3 separate regions of the Homo sapiens genome follow, and regions 2 and 3 are each linked to region 1. The links come from fine-mapping of genetic effects on gene expression. A gene starts in region 1. Each other region holds a variant in brackets. All regions are shown on one strand. Distances are between the middles of the regions.

Evidence for each region. PIP is the estimated chance that this variant, and not a neighbour inherited with it, causes the effect.
Region 2: its variant is fine-mapped to the expression of SNHG16 in spleen (GTEx, PIP 0.96).
Region 3: its variant is fine-mapped to the expression of SNHG16 in whole blood (INTERVAL, PIP 0.97).

Annotation. Positions count from the first base shown.
Region 1 is chr17:76,556,501-76,559,164 of GRCh38, reverse strand. It overlaps SNHG16 (small nucleolar RNA host gene 16), which reads right to left and starts at 1,401. Exons shown (of 3, transcript NR_038111.1): 1 at 1,308-1,401. SNORD1C (small nucleolar RNA, C/D box 1C) reads right to left here and starts at 375; the gene lies at 296-375. RefSeq lists enhancers at 179-980, 1,321-1,580, 981-1,781, 2,271-2,370.
Region 2 is chr17:76,097,110-76,099,904 of GRCh38, reverse strand. EXOC7 (exocyst complex component 7) reads left to right here. Exons shown (of 19, transcript NM_001013839.4): 5 at 1,887-2,109. It overlaps MIR6868 (microRNA 6868), which reads left to right and starts at 1,829; the gene lies at 1,829-1,886. The variant A/G (reference allele first, on the strand shown) is at 1,410.
Region 3 is chr17:76,493,206-76,496,000 of GRCh38, reverse strand. The region is part of intron 1 of RHBDF2 (rhomboid 5 homolog 2); the gene reads left to right. Among named protein-coding and RNA genes, the nearest start is that of RHBDF2, 6.8 kb to the left of the region's middle. The variant C/G (reference allele first, on the strand shown) is at 1,491.

The sequences.
Region 1 (2,664 bases):
CTACTTCCATTATCTGGGCAATCGTAACCCTGGAAGACCAACACATCCCCAAAACTAACAAACCAATACTTAAAGAGGACCATAAGCATATTCAAGTCTATGAAAGTACTAAAAATCTCACCATTTACAGAAATTTCATCATGAAGATCCTTACACTTAACACCTTAAGGTGATGAGTTTTCACATGACTGTTTTCAAGGCCACAGCCACCACCTTTAATCTAAAAGAGAAGGATAACAGGCTTCATTCTAACAGAAACCACCTTAAGGTTTATTCTCCAGATTTGTATTAAACAGCTGAGCCTCAGCAAGTCAGACCTCCTCACAAAAGATACCATTTCAGACAGGGATAACTTTAAATCATCCTCAGCTCAGCCAATAACAAAGATTCCTAAATCCTAGCGATCCAAAATTCATTTGCCATGTCTCTTTCATCCCTGCATGCCCTAACGAGGATCCACGCTGGTTACAATGACACCTAGTGGCCCCAAATCACACGGGCAAAGACGCTACTCATTTTTATCATTAAAATAATTAGCATTCTGAATTTTGAGTAATTTCTTACCATAGCTGGCTTGTATGTCAACACGTATTCTCATACTTGAACTTCAGAATAAAGCAGGAGGTGAATGTATGTGATGGCACCAACTGTGCTTTCTCATTTCTAGTGACCACTCAGGCCCTGCCTGCACCCACTCTTACTCATGTTAAGGGCTCCATCTATTACTCTGATCCTTCAACCTGGAGCTCTGCTTTTCACCGTCTCTGCAGATGCCAAACAAAGAAAGGCCTCTGGGGGAGGAAAAAAGGCTCGTTGTTAAAACTACGGCTTTCCAGAAGTTTACAATCCTATTGACTCCTATCTGTAAAGCTAAATATGAACTACCGATTGGGGCCGTCCTCAAGACACTCCAAGCGGAATCACGTCTTCACACGTTAACACTCCTGATGCTGAATTAAGAACCACCATCGTCAGAGTCTGCCCGTGCGCGGGCACCGAAGACCCCTGGGCATGACGCTCAGCACACGCGCGGCGGAGGCGCACGGGGCTGCCCAGGTTGTTAGGCGCTCTCCCCCGCAGAAGCCGGCCCTATGACGCCGAGGACGGGCTTGAGCTCTCTCCCTTCACATAGTAACATTTTCTCAACGTTTGGAAAGCATTTTCTCATCCAGTACTTTTAACCCTCCTAACCACCCTATGAGGGAGAAACCGAGATTATCGTCACCACTTCGTCTCTGAGGAAGGGAAGCCAAGTATGTTAGTGTCGTGTCAAGGAAGACCCCGTTTTCCCACCCAGGCAGCCTTACCATCATCACTAAAGGCCTGAGACTGCTCGCCGTGCTCAACACCGACTGGAGTGGCCATGTCTTCCAGCCACGCGGCCGACCTCGAAAAGAACGCGAGACCGCCCCTGCGCGCAAGTCTTCTCGGCAATCTCTCCGGAACTCTCGCGATGTTGAGAAAGGGCTGGTGGGAAATGTAGTTCAAAACTACGGCGGCTGGGGGCTGGCCGCGTCCTCAGCGCGACCCTGGAGCTGGGGGTAAGATGGTGGCCGCCACCAGGGGCAGTGGAGGGTCCGGAGTGGGAAACCAGGCCTGTGAAGAACCACGGCTGTCAGAAAACGAAGCTGGAGGTTCACTTCTGCCAGAAAGTCATTGAGCTTCAACACAGTTTGTCCCTGGTCGAGACTGGGGAAGCACAGAAAGTTCGAGGGGGCAGGGACAGATGAGGAAACCGGGGCTTGGCCGAGTATCTTTGTTAATTGCTCTGCGGATTTTATTTGGGGGAGGATAGGGGCATTTGGGGTGGTTCGCTGGGTTAGTGAAGAGGAGAGATTCCGAGGGAATCGTTCAACCTCCTGCTCAGGTGTTTTTAAGTTTGGGGCGAGGCCGGTGAAGCCGAGGCGCGGGCGGCAAGGAGCGCTGGAGAGCGACGGGGCTCGGCCTCCGCGGCTGCCCAGGGGCCCGGGGCATTCCGAGAAGAGAAAAAAAGGCAAGTGTCACGAGCTGAATTACGAAAAGAACGGAGAATGATGTAACACCCACTGCTCTTCTGAGTGTTATTTTTCAGGCAAACACCTTGGCTTCATTTTTTTTTGTTTCTGGGTTTTTTTGGTTTGTTTTTGAGATAAGGTTTCACCCTGGCACGCAGGCTGGAGTGCAGTGGTGCAATCATAACTTATTGTAGCCTGGACCTCCCGGGCTCAAGTGATCCTCCCGCCTCAGCCTCCTGAGTGGCCGGGACGACAGGCGAGCGCCACCACGCCCAGCTGATTATTTTTATTTTGCAGAGATGAGGTCTCACTATGTTGCCCGGGTTGGTCTCAAACTCCTGGCCTCAAGCAGTCCTCCTGTTTTGGCCTCCCAAAGTGCTGGGATTACAAAGGTGAGCCACTGCGCCCGGTCTGGCTTCGTTTTTGAAATAAAAATAAGGCAAAAACGACATCAACAATCAGGGCCAGAATTTGCACCTATTTGAAAGCTAGTTTAAGTTTGCAAGACCGAGAGCCTTTTCTCCATTCCAGTCTCCCTGTTCTCATCCACCCATTAACAGTGATCTCTGTGGCCTTCGGTGTGGGTTATATTGTCCTGCAGATGGTAATATGTTGCAGATACTTATCTTCAAATTACCACATTTGCTTATGTTTACCTCCTTTCATTTGA
Region 2 (2,795 bases), 460 kb after region 1:
TCTCAAACTACTGTCCTCAGGTGATCCTCCCACCTTGGCCTCTCAAAGTGTTGGGAGGGATTACGGGCATTACCCACTGTACCTGCCTTCATCATATTTTTGTGTTTAAGTTTTGGGGTCATTAGATCATCAGAGCAAGATGGTGACTTGGCCTCTGGAAATCACAAATCTATTTTCTGTCTTTATGGATTTGCCTATTCTGAATTTCTAATATAAATGGTATCTTATAATACATGGCCTTTTGTGACTGGCCTCTTTCACTTAGCGTGATGCTTTCAAGATCAATCCATGCTATAGCATGTATCAGTACTTCATTTCATTTTCATGCCATATGATATTCCTTTTTGTGGATAGACCACAGTTTCTTTTTTTGGTTTTTTGTTTTGTTTTGTTTTTTGAGACGGAGTTATGCTCTTGTTGCCCGGGCTGGAGTACAATGGCGCAATCTTGGCTCACTGCAACCTCCACCTCCTGGGTTCAAGCGATTCTCCTGTCCCAGCCTCCCGAGTAGCTGGGATTATAGGTGCCTGCCACCACACCGAGCTAATTTTTTGTATTTTTAGTAGAAACGGGGTTTCACCATGTTGGCCAGGCTGGTCTTGAACTCCTGACCTCAGGTGATCTGCTTGCCTCGGCCTCCCAAAGTGCTGGGATTACAGGCGTAAGCCACCGTGCCCAGCCAGACCACATTTTCTTTAGCCATTTATCCTTTGATGGACACTTGGGTTGTTTCCAATTTTTGTCTCTTGTGAATAATGCTGCTATAAACCCTCTTATATATGTCATCGTGTGGACAGATTCATTCTCTTTTATGTTTGGGATACCTGTCTTTTATCAGATACATAGTTTACAAATATTTTCTCTCATTCTGTGGGTTATCCTCACTTTGTTGGTGGTATCATTTGCAGCACAAAAGTTTTCAACTTGATATTGTTCAATTTATTTATTTATTTTCTTTTGCAAACCCCCCACTAACAAGAAGACAAATTAACGGTTCAGTGAGAAAATAATCGGCCAGTATTTTTTTTTTTTTTTTTTTGAGACGGAGTCTCACTCTGTTACCCAGGCTGGAGTGCAGTGACGCAATCTTGGCTCACTGCAAGCTCCGCCTCCTGGGTTCACACCTTTCTCCTGCCTCAGCCTCCCGAGTAGCTGGGACTACAGGTGCCCACCACCACGCCCGGCTAATTTTTTTTTTTGTATTTTTAGTAGAGATGGAGTTTCACCTTGTTAGCCAGGATGGTCTCGATCTCCTGACCTTGTGATCTGCCCGCCTCGGCCTCCCAAAGTGCTGGGATTACAGGCGTGAGCCACCGTGCACGGCCAATCAGCCAGTATTTATTAAGCACCTACTTCTTGTAAAACCCTGGGTTTTACCTGTAAACACAAATTTTGAGAGAACATGAAGT[A/G]AAGGAGTCACCAAGGCCGCTTCCCAGCGTTTCTTCTTTGGGTTAAAGGATATCAGGGCAGGCCAGGTGCAGTGGCTCATGCCTGTAATCCCAGCACTTTGGGAGGCTGAGGCGGGTGGATCACCTGAGGTCAGGAGATCAAGACCATCCTGCCAACATGGTGAAACCCCGTCTCTACTAAAAATACAAAAATTATCTGGGCATGGTGGCACGTGCCTGTAATCCCAGCTGCTCAGGAGGCTGAGGCAGGAGAATTGCTTGAACCAGGAAGTCGGAGGTTGCAGTGAGCCAAGATTGTGTCACTGCACTCCAGCCTGGTGACAGAGCGAGACTCCCTCTCAAAAAAAAAAAAGATATCAGGGCAGAAAAGGGCAGAGGCCCTGAGTTAAGAAGACAGAGCTGGCACAGGCAGGGGAAGGCCAGGACTGGCAGAACACTGAAGCAGCAGGCACCTGCTTCCTTCTGTTGTCTGTGCAGAAACTGCTCTTTGAGCGCGGGAAGGAGGCCCTGGAGTCCGAATTTCGCAGCCTGATGACGCGGCACAGTAAGGTCGTCTCGCCCGTGCTCATCTTGGATCTGATCAGTGGTGACGATGATCTGGAGGCCCAGGAGGACGTGACCCTGGAGCACCTGCCCGAGAGCGTGCTCCAGGATGTCATTCGCATCTCCCGCTGGCTGGTGGAATATGGCCGCAACCAAGGTAAGGGATTCTGGCTTGGCCACATGACACACCAGAGGCAGAGGGAGTTTTCTCCCCTTTGTTCTTTTTTTTTTTTTTTTTTTTTTTTTTTTGAGATGGAGTCTTGCTCTGTTGCCCATGCTGGAGTGCAATGGTGCAACTCGGCTTGCTGCAGCCTCTGCATACCCGGGTTCCAGCGATTCTCCTGCCTCAGCCTCCCGAGTAGCTGGGATTACTGGCGCATGCCACCATGCCTGGCTAAGTTTTGTATTGTTAGTAGAGATGGGGTTTCACCATGTTGGCCAGGCTGGTCTTGAACTTCTGACCTCAGGTGATCTGCCCACCTCAGCCTCCCAAAGTGCTGGGATTACAGATGTGAGCCACCATGCCTGGCCCCCTTTATTCTTTAATCCACCTGTCATGGTTTTTTTGATAAAAGGATGTTTAACTGGAACCAATATAAGAATATAAGCAACCATTCTATGACTTGTATATCAAGTGGTGAATCTAGGCAAATTCAAACTTTTCTTGTCTTGATTTTTATGTTCCTTTGCCTTTTTTGATTAGTTGTAAAATTTTCAAAGCCATGGGTGAAAAGTAAAAGTCCATCTCCCATTCCCTGATGCCTCCATTACATAAGCCAAAGATGAGCACTATTAAGGTTTATTTATGCCAGGTGCTGTGGCTATGCCTGTAATCCTAACAGT
Region 3 (2,795 bases), 63 kb after region 1:
CTGCCCCGAAGCAAGGTGTGGGCCATAAGCACGTGGCTTTGCAGGCCTGCTTGGGACAAGCAACCTGGTGTCCCCGTGTCCTGAAACCCTGGCAGTCACTGGGGCTAGGGCCAGCCTCTTCCCTGGGAAGCAGGGAGCCCCAGGGCAACGTTCTGGGAAATCAGGTTTATTAGTTCCTTAATGACCGTTTACAAGCTCAGAAGTGTCTGCCTGGCATTTTCCCTCCCTGCTGAGGGGCTCCATGCAGCCGGAGGCAGAACTGGGCCTCCAGAAGCGCTCTGAGTGTGTCGAGGTGAGGGCCCAGGGATGCCGTCGGCTCCCTGGGCTCTGCATGCTCACACCCAGCCAGTCCAGGCCTATTTCTGGCTGGGTGGCACTGGGCAAGGTGCTTACCTCTCTGTACAATAGGTGAGACCTTGTACCTCAGCTGAGCTGTTCCTGGGGTGAGCCCTCGTTCATGGTGACAAAGTCACATAGATCTTAGACCCTGGGAGGATACTAGCATCTTATGCATACACAAACTGAGGCTCAGAGATGTTAAGTGGCTTGCCCAAGATCGCACAGTGGTTAGAGATGGGCCTGTGACCCTGTCTTCTGCCATCGGGACAGATTTTCACTGTCTGGAGGCAGGTGGAAACCGGGTGGGCTCCTACTTTGTAAGCACAGGACAGTGCCCTGTCTGTGTACATGGGACAGTCACAAACGGAAATGGCCTGGTCACACCTTAGTGTCAAGGAGCCTCCAGCAGGAGTGAAACGGACCTCTCACACAGACCCCAGGCTGCATCTCATCCTGCCCCAACCGCTGGGCTTGTGCTGGACCACCACTGCTTCCAAGGACCCGTGAAAACCCGGCTGCCGGGATGCAGAGAGGCAGACTTTCATGAACGTTTGCAGCAAAGGGCAGTTCCCACCGAGCCTGTGTTGCTGTGGCACTGTGTGGTGCACACCCCACCCCGGAAACCCTCCAGTGTCCTGGTGTCTGACCCCAAATGGACAGGGCCTTTTGGCCCCCAGGGGCCACTTCTGACTCCTCCCCTTCACAACGATGCTGAGGGAGCAGGAGAACTGGGGCCCGGCTGCTGTGCGTGCCCCCTTCCCTTCATTGCCCCAAAGCCTGCAGTCCAGCCCCAGGCTCGGGAGCTGCTGCCTCTTCCCTGGGATGTGGAAGGCACCTGCATCCCCGCCCAGCTGCTGCCACTTGCCTGCCTCCATCAGCAGCTTTGTTTTATTTTGTCTGTGTGTTTTTTGAGATGGAGTCTTGCTCTGTCGCCCAGGCTGGAGTGCAGTGGCGTGATCTCGGCTCACTTCAACCTCCGCCTCCCAGGTTCAAGCGATTCTTCTGCCTCAGCCTCCTCAGTAGCTGGGATTACAGGCACCCGCCACCATGCCTGGCTAATTTTTGTATTTTTAGTAGAGATGGGGTTTCACCATGTTGGCCAGGCTAGTCTAGAACTCCTGACCTCAGGTGATCTGCCCACCTCAGCCTCC[C/G]AAAGTGCTGGGATTACAGGTGTGAGCCACTGTGCCCAGCCTCCACCAGCAGCTTTTGAAATCCAGAAATTTCCAGGGGAGGGCACTGTGGTGGGTGGGGCCCAGCGCTGTGTCCAGCTCGAGGCCTGGCTGCACTGCCACCTCCTTTGGTGCCCACCCCTGTGTCTTGCCAGCAGCTGCTGCACATTGGGCTTCGGGGATGCAGGACTCCAGCACCCCCAGCTCAGCCTGCTTCCTGGACCAGGAACCCCAGCCGAGGAGGGGGCATTTGTATCTCTGCCATCCCTGCTGGCAACTGGTCCTGAGAAAGCCCAGATGGTTGGTGCAGAGGGGGCGTCAGGGGCTGCACCACCCTAAGAACATGACATGTCACCCCCCAGCCCCCCGCAACACACACACACAGGTTCACACCTCACACCCCTGATCTTGGCGGCTCCCTGGAGCACAGCACCCGCTTCCCGTGTCTGTGGTTGGCTTATGACGCCCCAGCCACTCTAACCGGGTTAAGGGGAGCCCAGAGCCTGGGGCCGGATAGGAAAAAGCCCAGAGAAGTCAGGGGATGGTCAGTCCCCTGAAGCTGCCCCTGGGGGTTCTTGATCTTCTGAACTGAGTTCGAGGCAAGCCCTGGAGGGGCGAGGAGGAGAAAGAAACAGCTCTCTGGGCCAGGACCCGCTGTTCGTGGGATGTCTGGGGAGCTGTGTGAACCCACAGGCCGTTTTGTTTCTCTCCATCAGCAGCTGTGGGCTGAAGCGTGTACCGGCGGAGTGGGTTGAGATCGTGTCTGCGCCCACTTGCCACCAGCTCCGGCCTCTGGGGAGGTGGTGCTGAGAGGGAGGGAGAGTGGCTCCTGTTTGGCTCCTGGAGACAGACAGCTGGGTGTCCCACCCTCAGAGTCCCCAGCCCCCTCTCCCCTCTGCTAACTCTGCCGGTGGAGCTCACGCCGCAGCTCATGCCAACCCTGCCCTTCTGTTTTGCCTCTCATGACTCTCCCCAAATTCTGCCCCCAGGCCCCCAGCCAGCCTTCTTGCCACTTTCCTGCCCTTTACTCTTGCCCCTTCTACCTCTTGCCAGGGCAGCGTCACTGGCTACGTGAGGCCCAGCTTGGGGATGCATGGGGAGGTGTAAGAACAGCTGTGCCATGAGCTGTCCTTCCGGGCCTCTGGGGCTGGAGAAACCCCGGGGTCAGCAGTACCACGGGTTTTGCTGGGGATTGCACAGTGGGTGAGGCTCAGCTTCCTCTTTGCAGCTTTCTAAAAATGCCCTGGTTCCCAGCAGGGCCACAGGCAGGGAAAATGAGTTTCAGTT